3 linked regions of the Homo sapiens genome follow. The protein of the gene in region 3 purifies or fractionates together with the protein of the main gene of each other region. This does not show direct contact. Each region holds a gene or a part of one and is shown on either strand. Other genes may lie near its edges. The genes, in order: AXL, SLC12A7 and TMEM204.

Evidence for each region.
Region 1: the proteins of TMEM204 (region 3) and AXL purify together in Homo sapiens (affinity purification with mass spectrometry; one large-scale study listed by BioGRID and IntAct). This does not show direct contact.
Region 2: the proteins of TMEM204 (region 3) and SLC12A7 purify together in Homo sapiens (affinity purification with mass spectrometry; one large-scale study listed by BioGRID and IntAct). This does not show direct contact.

What each region holds. Positions count from the first base shown.
Region 1 is NC_000019.10:41,253,681-41,257,329, forward strand, and holds part of AXL (tyrosine-protein kinase receptor UFO isoform 1 precursor), read left to right. Parts: coding exon 1-28; intron 29-2,771; coding exon 2,772-2,931; intron 2,932-3,649. UniProt on the Homo sapiens protein: Receptor tyrosine kinase that transduces signals from the extracellular matrix into the cytoplasm by binding growth factor GAS6 and which is thus regulating many physiological processes including cell survival, cell proliferation, migration and differentiation.
Region 2 is NC_000005.10:1,084,520-1,088,168, reverse strand, and holds part of SLC12A7 (solute carrier family 12 member 7), read left to right. Parts: intron 1-1,135; coding exon 1,136-1,266; intron 1,267-2,695; coding exon 2,696-2,937; intron 2,938-3,649. UniProt on the Homo sapiens protein: Mediates electroneutral potassium-chloride cotransport when activated by cell swelling. May mediate K(+) uptake into Deiters' cells in the cochlea and contribute to K(+) recycling in the inner ear.
Region 3 is NC_000016.10:1,550,568-1,553,417, reverse strand, and holds part of TMEM204 (transmembrane protein 204), read right to left. Parts: intron 475-2,850; exon of another isoform or gene 1-474. UniProt on the Homo sapiens protein: Can influence paracellular permeability. Appears to be involved in cell-cell interactions through adherens.

The sequences.
Region 1 (3,649 bases), on a different chromosome or scaffold from region 3:
ACCGGGACCTGGCGGCCAGGAACTGCATGTGAGTGCCTTTCAGGGACCCCCCCCCCCCAACTGCTCCTGCACTCCCTGAGGGAGTTCCCTCCCTCCTTCTTAGGATGGAAGCAGGGCTAGACACCCGCTGAGGGCAGGTCAGAACTCAGGACCAGGAAAGTCAGTAAGGGGGTCTGGGAAGGCTTCCTGGAGGAGGTGAGTCCTGAACTGAGATCTGGAAGGAGCATTTGGATGCGGAGAGGGAAGAGACCAGAAGGTGGGCTCAGTGCACAGCATGAGGTGAGCAAAGGGGCTGAGGTGACCGATGGGGGTGGGGACACGTGAGCTGCATCTCTGTCCCACTCCATGCTGGGTGTCTTGCCTGGGGCTGCCCTTTGGAAGCGGCCACACTGGATAAGAAAATCAAACTCCCCACCAATGGACAAGCAGAAAATATGCCAGATGGGGTGCAGTGGCTCACGCCTGTAATCCCAGCACTTTGGGAGTCCGAGGCGGGTGGATCACTTGAGGCCAGGAGTTCGAGACCAGCCTTGGTGAAACCCCCTGTCTACTAAAAGTACAAAATTCAGCCTGGTGCGGTGGTGTGCGCCTGTAATCCCAACACGAGAATTGCTTGAACCCAGGAGGCGGAGGTTGCAATGAGCCGAGATCGCATCACTGCACTCCAGCCTGGGCGACAGAGCAAGACTCTGTCTCAAAAAAAAAAAAAAAAAGAAAGAAAGAAAGAAAGAAAGAAAAAAGAAAATAGTAACCTGTAGTCCCAGCCATTCCCAAGGCTTAGGTGAGAGGATTGCTTGAGCCTCGAGACCAGCCTGGGTAACAACAACGAGACACCATCTCAAAAAAAAAGAAAAAAAGAAAAGAAAGAACAAAAAATCCCCCAAAAGCCAGAATAGAGGGTAAGGGGAGGGTAGAAGGTGGAGGGAATGGAACCACAGAGTTAGAATATTAGTCTTGGCCAGGCGCAGTGGCTCACATCTATAATCCCAGCCCTTTGGGAGGCTGAGGCAGGAGGATCACTTGTACCCAGGAGTTCAAGACCAGCCTGGGCAACATAGTGAATCCTGTCTTTACAAAAAATAAATTAGCTGGGCATGGTGGTGTATACCTGTGGTTCCAGCTACTTGGGAGGCTGAGGTGGAAGGATTGCTAGAGCCCAGGAGGTTGAGGCTGAAGTCAGCCATGATGGTATCACTTCACTACTGCCTGGGCAACAGGGCAAGATCCCATCTAAAAAAAAATTGATGTATATTTTACATACACTAAAATATACACATGCAGCTCAGCTCGATGAATTTTTATGGGTATAGACCCATGTAACCACTAGATGAAGGTAAAGAATATTTCTTAGCCCCAGCAGGCTCCTTCATGCCTCTTCGTCTTCCCAATCACTACCGCCAAGTGGTACCCACTATCCTGACTTCTCAGTGCTAGTTTAGCCTGTTCTGAAAAGTCATACAAATGGGATCATGCAGTTTGTACTGCTTTGTGTCTGGCTTCTATGGCTCAGCATGATGTTTTTGAGATGGATCTGTGTAGGGGTAGTTTGCTCTTTTTCTTTGCTGTGTGGTATGGTATTCCATCATATGAATGTCCTGTGGATTTTCTTTTCTTTTTTTCTCTTTCTTTCTTTTTCTTTCTTTTCTTTCTTTTTCTCTCTGTCCTTTCTTCTTTCTTTTCTTTCTCTTTCTCTCTCTTTATCTCCTTCCTTCCTTCCTTCCCTCCCTCCCTCTCTCTTTCCCTTTCTTTCCCTTTTTTTCTTTCTTTTCTTTTTTGTTTTGACAGAGTCTTACTCTGTCCTTTAGGGTGGGGTGCAGTGGCATGATCATAGCTCACTGTAGCCTCCAACTCCTGGCTCAAGCTATCCTTCTGCCTCAGCCTCCTAAGTAGCTGGAACTACAGACATGTGCCACCATGTCCAGCTAATTTTTAAATTTTTTTGTAGAGACAGGGTCTTGCTTTGTTTTCCAGGCTGGTCTTGAACTCCTAGCCTCAAGTGATCCTCCCACCTTGGCCTCCCAAGGTGCTGAAATTACAGGCTTGAGCCACTGTGCCTGTTTTTTTTTTTGTTTGTTTTTGAGACGGAGTCTCACTCACTCTGTTGCCCAGGCTGGAGTGCAGTGGCGTGATCTCAGCTCACTGCAACCTCCGCCTACTGGGTTCAACTGATTCTCTTGCTTCAGCCTCCCAGGTAGCTGGGATTTCAGATGTGCACCAACACACCTGGCTAATTTTTGTACTTTTAGTAGAGACAGAGTTTCACCACATTGGCCAGGCTGGTCTCAAACTCCTGACCTCAAGTGATCCACCTGCCTTGGCCTCCCAGAGTGCTGGGATTACAGGCGCCAGCCACCATGCCCAGCCATGTTCTGTTTCTTAATCTGGGTGCTGGTTACATGGGTGTGTGTGTGTGTGTGTGTGAAAATTCAGTGAGCTGCTTACTTATGACTTGTGCACATTTCCATATGTACAGTATACTTCAAGAAAAAAAAATTTCATCAAGGAATCAAACCCAAGGAAGGACCTTAGAATCTAGCAAAGAGCCAAAATTGGGAAGTCCTGAGGAAGCCCTTTGTCCCATCCTCACTTGACAGAGTGAACAAGAAGTAAAGCAGTTCCCTTCTGGACTGGGATGAAGGTTTAGGAGACAGATCCCCACCCGCAGCCAGGACAGTGAGGGGAGGAGGTGCAGATGTGTCTGAGAGCCAGGGCAGGCTTCCTGGTGGAGGTGACTGATGCCCTGACCCTGTTCCTTTCCCCAATCCAAACAGGCTGAATGAGAACATGTCCGTGTGTGTGGCGGACTTCGGGCTCTCCAAGAAGATCTACAATGGGGACTACTACCGCCAGGGACGTATCGCCAAGATGCCAGTCAAGTGGATTGCCATTGAGAGTCTAGCTGACCGTGTCTACACCAGCAAGAGCGATGTGGTAGGTGCACTCCCGCCAAGAGTGGGGAACCATGGGAGGGCATGGCCTGACCATCACACACTATGCCTGGGTGGCTGTGGATGCAAGGGTCACAGGGACATGTGGGCTTCCCTTTGCAGGGGCTTGTCCACATGGGCTGGGCATGTCTTGGGGTATGGTGGGCATCTCTGAATAGTGGTGTGTACATGCCCAGGATAAATACAGGCCCACGTGTGCATGGTAGCAATGTAGACAGTTTAGGTTAGAAGAAGCTGCAGTGATTATGCGTGCATGTGCGCACACTCATAGAATGTGGACAGCCAGGGTGTGCAGAGTGGCACATGAGCTCATGTGTCCATGAAGTGTGTATATGTGTGTGATGGTGAGCATGTGTATGCATCCACAAAAGTTACTTATTCATGTGTATACCCGTGTCAAGTATTTTTTATATATATATATTTTTCTTTTTTTGAGATGGAGTCTCGCACTGTCACCCAGGCTGCAGTGCAATGGCATGATCTCAGCTCACTGCAGACTCTGCCTCCCGGGTTCAAGCAATTCTCCTGCCTCAGTCTCCCGAGTAGCTGGGATTACAGGCGCCCACCACCATGCCTAGCTAATTTTTGTATTTTTAGTAGAGACGGGGTTTCACTATATTGGCCAGGCTGGTCTCAAACTCCTGACCTCAGGCAGTCCGCCCACCTCAGCCTCCCAAAGTGCTGGGATTACAGGCATCAGC
Region 2 (3,649 bases), on a different chromosome or scaffold from region 3:
TCTCCACTGGCTCCTCTGGCGTTTGAGCCGTGAGGTCACGGCTGTTTGGTTTTCTTCCCCATTTTGCTGCGTGGTGACCGTCTCTTGCCAGGGTAGGCAGTGCCCACCAGGCAGCGGGCTGGGGAGGGGGAGGCACGGGCGATTCCAGTGGCTCCTGTAGCCCAGCGTGTGCCATAGGCTGAGTTCTTGGAACCTGTATCTCACGAGGGAAGGTGAAGACAAAACACTGCCCTGACCTTGTTAATTAGTAATAAGTTAATTACAATACATAATAACTAAATAACTAGTGAACCGAGATGATATTAATTAGTAATAAGTTAATTACAATACGTAATAACTAGTAAACTGAGATGATACTGTTAATTAGTAATAAACGAATTACGATACGAAATAACTAGTGAACGGAGACGCTGCCACGTCTGCTTCTGAGTGCATGTGTGCTGCGCGTGTTAACGGCTGGGCTTGCTCAGCACCAGGTCCTCACGCAGCTGGTCCCCATCCCCACGGGGGCATCGCTTGGTGCTCAGCGGACTTCCCCGGCCTCAGGAGAGCACGAGGGCCTTCACCAGGGGTCTCCCTCCGCAGCCAAGGGACCAGTCTCTGCTTCACGATGGCCGCGTCCATTAGGACCCCTTCCACATGCCACACGCACTGCTCAGAGCAGGGAGAGCTGTGTTCTCCAGGCAGCCCTGGGGTTGCGCCCGGCTTTCCCGCCAGTGATAGCGTGCGTGGTTCACAGTACACGAGACGACTCCTGAACATCCTAGTTTCTCTTTTGCCTTTTTCATAAGCAAAACTTAGTGGAAGTGGGGGCTGGGGCTGCCACTGATGTACGCGGGACTTTTTCTGGGACCTGCTGGGGCCTCCTGCTCCCCAGAGAGCCTTATCCCTGATCTCACCTGGTCCTCATGTCCATGAGAGCGCGTGCTCTTGGTGTGGAACGTGTGCCGAGCCTCGGGAGGGGAGAGTTCACCGTGGAAGCGTCTCCATGTGCTGCTTTGCGGGTGGACGAGGGTCTACACGCTGCCTTCGCAGAGACAGGCCCTCCTTTGCCCGTGAATGGCAGCGCAGACCGCACCTCGGGTCCGAGTCCAAGTGCGCCCCTGACCCGCGGCTGCCGCCTTTGTCTCCGCAGCTGGCGGGTCCTACTACATGATATCGCGCTCGCTGGGACCCGAGTTTGGAGGCGCTGTCGGCCTCTGCTTCTACCTGGGCACGACGTTTGCAGGGGCCATGTATATTTTGGGGACCATCGAGATTTTTCTGGTAAGTGTGCTGCTTTGGAAGGGTTCCCACCCCACAGTCTGTGGCAGGATGCCAAGGGGCCCTGCCTGACCCACTCTGTGGCACACACAGCACACTGAGCCATCCTGACCCCACTGCCCTGGCTGCCCCTGGGCTCTCCTGGGCTCTGGCCATGGCGGAAGCCACTGGGCAGCGTCCACTCAGCAGCGACCTGTGTCCCCCTTGAGCACCATTGCTGCCCTCCGTGAGGCGTGCCTGGCATGAGCTGGGTAGACATCTGGACTGTAGATCTGAGCCCCGCGTAGGTGCAGTCCTGCAGTCGGAGCTGTTTTAGGAGCAGGGCTGGAACTCGGCTTAGAAGAACCTTTTGCCAGGATCCCAGCCTCTTCTCTGCCTGATCTGGGCACTTGGCCGAGGGTCCCAGAGCCCAGCAATGTACAACCAGGTGATGTCATCACCTTCTCAAAACAGGCATGCTCAAAGCATGTCCCACATCACCTGAGCACAGCTGAGAGCTGTGGCCTGAGTTCCTTGGTCCTCGTGGGGACGGGAACCGCCCTTCTCTGGCCGACGGGTGCTGTCCTTCCTGCTGAGGTTCTGAAACCCGCTGTCCCTGCAGGGCTTCAGAGACGCTCACCTGAGCCCCTGTCCCCAGTCTTTCTGCCCCTCCCTCTGCTGCCAGACCTGGTTCCTGGCCTCCTGGGTTCCTGAAGAGAGCCACATGGCCAAGAAGGTTCTGAAACCTTTCAGTGGGGTCGCACCCACACCCGTCCCAACCCGAGTCCCCTGGCCATGTCCCTCCATCTTTCCACCTGCCCCGGGTGCCGTGGCTGCCGCACTCCCAGGATCCCCTTTGGTGGGGGTGGGTGCCATGCCCTCCATGCCTGCTGCACCCCAGTCCTGTCCTGGTCTTGAGGGAGCTGAGCAGCACTGTCTCACGTCTCCGTCCCTTCCCTTGAATCTGGGCAGAACAGAGGTTGCCCCCCGCCGGCGTGGTCAGACCCTGTGTGTGTCCAGGACGTCCAGCCGGGGTGGGCCGAGCTCTCTGGGCAGCAGTCACATTCCTCTTAGCAGAAGGTGTTTCTTTTGAGTGCGGACATGCGGATGCCCCGGGTCCTGAAGTTGCTTTACTCTAAGGCTCCCGGGTGGTTCCTGGGAAACGTTCAGGCCCCTGGCTGTCCATGGCCTGTGCGCTGACCCCCGCGGGCTCCGTCCCTCGCCTGTGCGCTGACCCCCGCGGGCTCCGTCCCTCGCCTGTGCGCTGACCCCCGCGGGCTCCGTCCCTTGCCTGTGCGCTGACCCCCGCGGGCTCCGTCCAGCACGGATGCGTCCCGATGGCCCCGGCACCTGTTGGGAGGAGGCCCCTGTGTGGCGCTGGGGGCTTGCGGGAGGGACGGGCACTGGGGAGTTGTGTCCGGGGACGGCCTCCCGACCGGCCTTGTTCCCACAGACGTACATCTCCCCGGGTGCGGCCATCTTCCAGGCGGAGGCTGCAGGTGGCGAGGCGGCCGCCATGCTGCACAACATGCGTGTGTACGGCACGTGCACGCTCGTGCTCATGGCCCTGGTGGTCTTCGTGGGCGTCAAGTATGTCAACAAGCTGGCGCTGGTCTTCCTGGCCTGCGTCGTGCTGTCCATCCTGGCCATCTATGCCGGCGTCATCAAGTCTGCCTTCGACCCCCCGGACATCCCGTGAGTCTCGGGGCCTCTGAGCCGTGGGTGGGTGTGGGGCTGGGGCCAGGTCCCATGGGCTCTGCCCGCCTCTCGTCCATCATCCTTGACGCCGAGCTCCCCGCAAGGGGTGGGCTGGGTGTGACCGTGGCGGGAACCCCCGTGGGCTCGTTCTGGGGATTACAGGAAACCCAACGGTGAGGTGGGCCGAGGTACCCTCGTGGCCGGGTCTGAGCATGAAGACCCTCCTCAGTGGCAGGAGGGCTGGTGAGGGGTCTGGCAGGTTTCAGGGGTGGCCGGTGGCCCTGAGCACGGTCAGGTGCAGTGAGCGTCATGGGTGTGGCCCTGGCTGCTGCTGGGGCCTGGGTGTCTTCTCCCTCCCAGAGGTGCTTGGAGGGGCTCTTTTCTTGTCCTTTTGGAGGAGCAGCTGGGAGGCGGCCCAGGGTCCTGGAACATGGGAGTGGCCACCAGAGCCCGCAGGGAGCAGGTCCAGAAAGGGCCAGCAGCCAAGCCCCTTGAGGCTCCCGCGGTTTTGCCGTCTCTGCGTGGAGGGAGCCCCTGAAGGAACAGCCTCATAGAGGCCTCAAAACAGAGGGAGGCAGAACAGCTGCAACCCCACAAGCCCGTTTTAGGGAAGCACAGCTGCCCTCCCCCTCGGGGACCCGTCCTGAGACCCCCTGCCGATGCTTGACGCTACGGCCCTGTGTAGACTGTTTTCCACGTACAGGCCTGG
Region 3 (2,850 bases):
CCGCCTCCCCTGCATTCCCCAGGAAACCAAATCATGCCCTGCCCTGTGTGGCCCCAGCATCGAGAGAGGATGGGAGAAAAAGAGACACAGGGACAGAGACACAGAGACAGAGACACAGAGAGACAGGCAGAGACACAGAGAGACAGAGACCAAGAGAGATACAGAGAGACAGAGACAGACACAGAGACAGATGGAGACAGAGAGAGACAGAGACAGAGACACAGGGAAGGAGAGACAGAGAGCAAGAGATGGGTAACCAGCCTTGTTTTTCCTAAAAACCCAAGCATTATCTTTTCATCATCACTGTACCCTCCAGAAAGTATGAATTAAGCATTTATCTATCTCCATTTTGTCCTGAACAATGACAGTGACTGGTTTCTGTGTTCATTCTTTATAATACTTCATGGAGCTTCTTATACATGGGTAGCTCCTGGATACTTCTGTTTTATTAAAAATAACATTCTAGACAAGGCACAGTGGTTTACGCCTATAATCGCAGCACTTTGGGAGGCTGAGGCGGGTGGATCACGAGGTCACGAGTTCAAGACCAGCCTGGCCAAGATGGTGAAACCCTATCTCTACTAAAAATACAAAAAAAAAAAATTAGTGAGGTGTGGTGGCAGGCACCTGTAATCCCAGTTACTCAGGAGACTGAAGCAGAGAATTGCTTGAACCCAAGAGGCGGAGGTTGCAGTGAGCCGAGATCACGCCACTGCACTCCAGCCTTGGCGACAGAGCGAGACTCCATTTCAAAAAAAAAAAAAAAAAAGCATTCTCTTTGTAATGAATACTAACAAAGGAAACTTCTGGCATTTCTACCAGTGCGGAATGTGCCCTCTGCTCACGATTGTGTGGTATCGATGCTTGTGTTACTGGGGTGAAGGAATGAGCCTGTGTTGTGTGTGAGGAAAATGAGGGCACTTTGAACAGCGTCCACTCATGTTTACGGGGTCTGGCACTTTCTGCCGGTGGGGTGTGGGTTGTGCTGGTGTCAGGGCTCAGAGGAGGTGGTCCTGGAGGCAGGGCAGGCACAGCGGAGAGCTCAGGACACCCGAGACAGAGGCGAGCGGGAGGGGTGGGGCGCTCTTGGCAGGGACAGTGGGAGCCTTGGGGAGAGTCCCAGCCCAGCAGGGGGGCGATGCAAGCCCTGAGACCCTCGAGGGCGGGAGGAGGTTATACCGGCAGTAACTGGCCTTCATCAGGCTCCAGCCCGCCATGGCCACAGCCTGTTTCTCCCCCTCACCAGGCTTCCTTTCTACTTGCGGGTGTTACAGAAACGTGTTTAAAATCTCAGGGGGCCTCTAGTTCCACACATCATTCATCCGAATGGAACAGTGGAAAGGGATTGTGCCCCCCATGGCTTCCAGGGTCAACCTCCCTCACGGTCTGCGGTTGCCGTGGGGGTCAGTTTCCACACATAGGGGACCTGGAGGTACCGTCATTGCAGGGGGACAGCGCGGGCCACACGTCACCAGGGAGAGGCCCCGGGGACATCACCAGGGACACACCCGGGAGGCTTCTGAGTGCACAGCTCGGATTTACAGTGGCTTTCTAGGAAAACCTCGGGAAGAAAACTCTAAGGCAACACAGGGCAACCAGCCCGGGTGGGAGGTCCCGCAGAGTTGATCTTGCCGGATCTGCCGGACCACGCACGTGTGGTGTGGCCTCCTTTGTATAGGTAGCTCCCAACAAAACCCCGTAGAAGACTGAAGTGCCGCTGATCTTAGGCTCTTCCGTGAACAAGCATGTCCTGAAGTTGGGTTCGACAGTGAGGAATGTGCTGGACGTTTCAAGGTGTCTGCAGCAGTGCCGGGTGACCTTGCTGGGGATACTGATGCAGGCGGCCCTCCCTCCACCGCTGCACCCTGATCTGTATGAAACTCACATCCTGTCTCCCCAGCACTCAGCACCCTTGTGGCTCCCATCGCCTTAGGGTCTCCCCTGCTACCTGCGGCCGCCCTTCTGCCACCCTGGGGCCCAGTGGCCCTTTCCACCCCTCTCAGTCACTGGGTCCACCTACTCTGGGCTTCTCCTCGTGCCACTGTCCCCGGCTTGACTGGCCCTGGGGAGGAGGGGCCCCTCCTGCTGCTGATCCTTCGGGCCTCGGCTTAGAGTTGCACCTGCCCACCCCTGCCAGCCGTGGTCATTGTGTCTTTACCCATGGGTGGCTCTGGCCGCTCTCCCCCGCCACAGGGCAGGCTCCCCGGGGCCAGAACTTGCCCCACCATTGACCACAGCTTCCCAGAAGTCTCTCCGCAATTACTTTTTGAGTTAATCGTTTGAGGAGACCAAAGTAGACGTGAAACAGAACAGAATGCAGTGTGGAGCTGCGGGAAAGGCGAGGAGGAACAGCAGCCTTGGCAGTTGAGTGACCAGGACCCCTCAAAGGGACAGAGCCCTTTGGCCAGATCACGTAGATGCCGCTACCCTGGTGCCCTCGAATGCTCACGGAGGGGCAGCACGATTCCCAAGGACCCACTGGCATCGGCTACGTGGCCCTGTACTCAACAGGCCTGTTCAGCCTCCACTGGCACGCCGGGGACCACGCTAGGGTCAGCGTCAGCCACAGAGACGGCTAGGGCGCTCTTGACTTTCCTTGGGGAACTGGCATTCCTCTTAGAGAGATGGGGAAGTCATTAATCTCTGTGTCCCCAGAGGGTGGCATTTGGCAGGGCCTTGCCCTATGTGGAGGGTCAAGCTTGCAGGGAAGGCTCTCCAGACTCTAAATTAAAAGTGGGAAGGCTAAACCATGGAGCAAAGCACAGAGCGGGTAGGCAGAACTGAGCCCGGCCTCCTGCCCTGAGGCAGCCTGCCGGGTGCCCTAGCAGTGTGGAGCCACCCCAGCCCTGA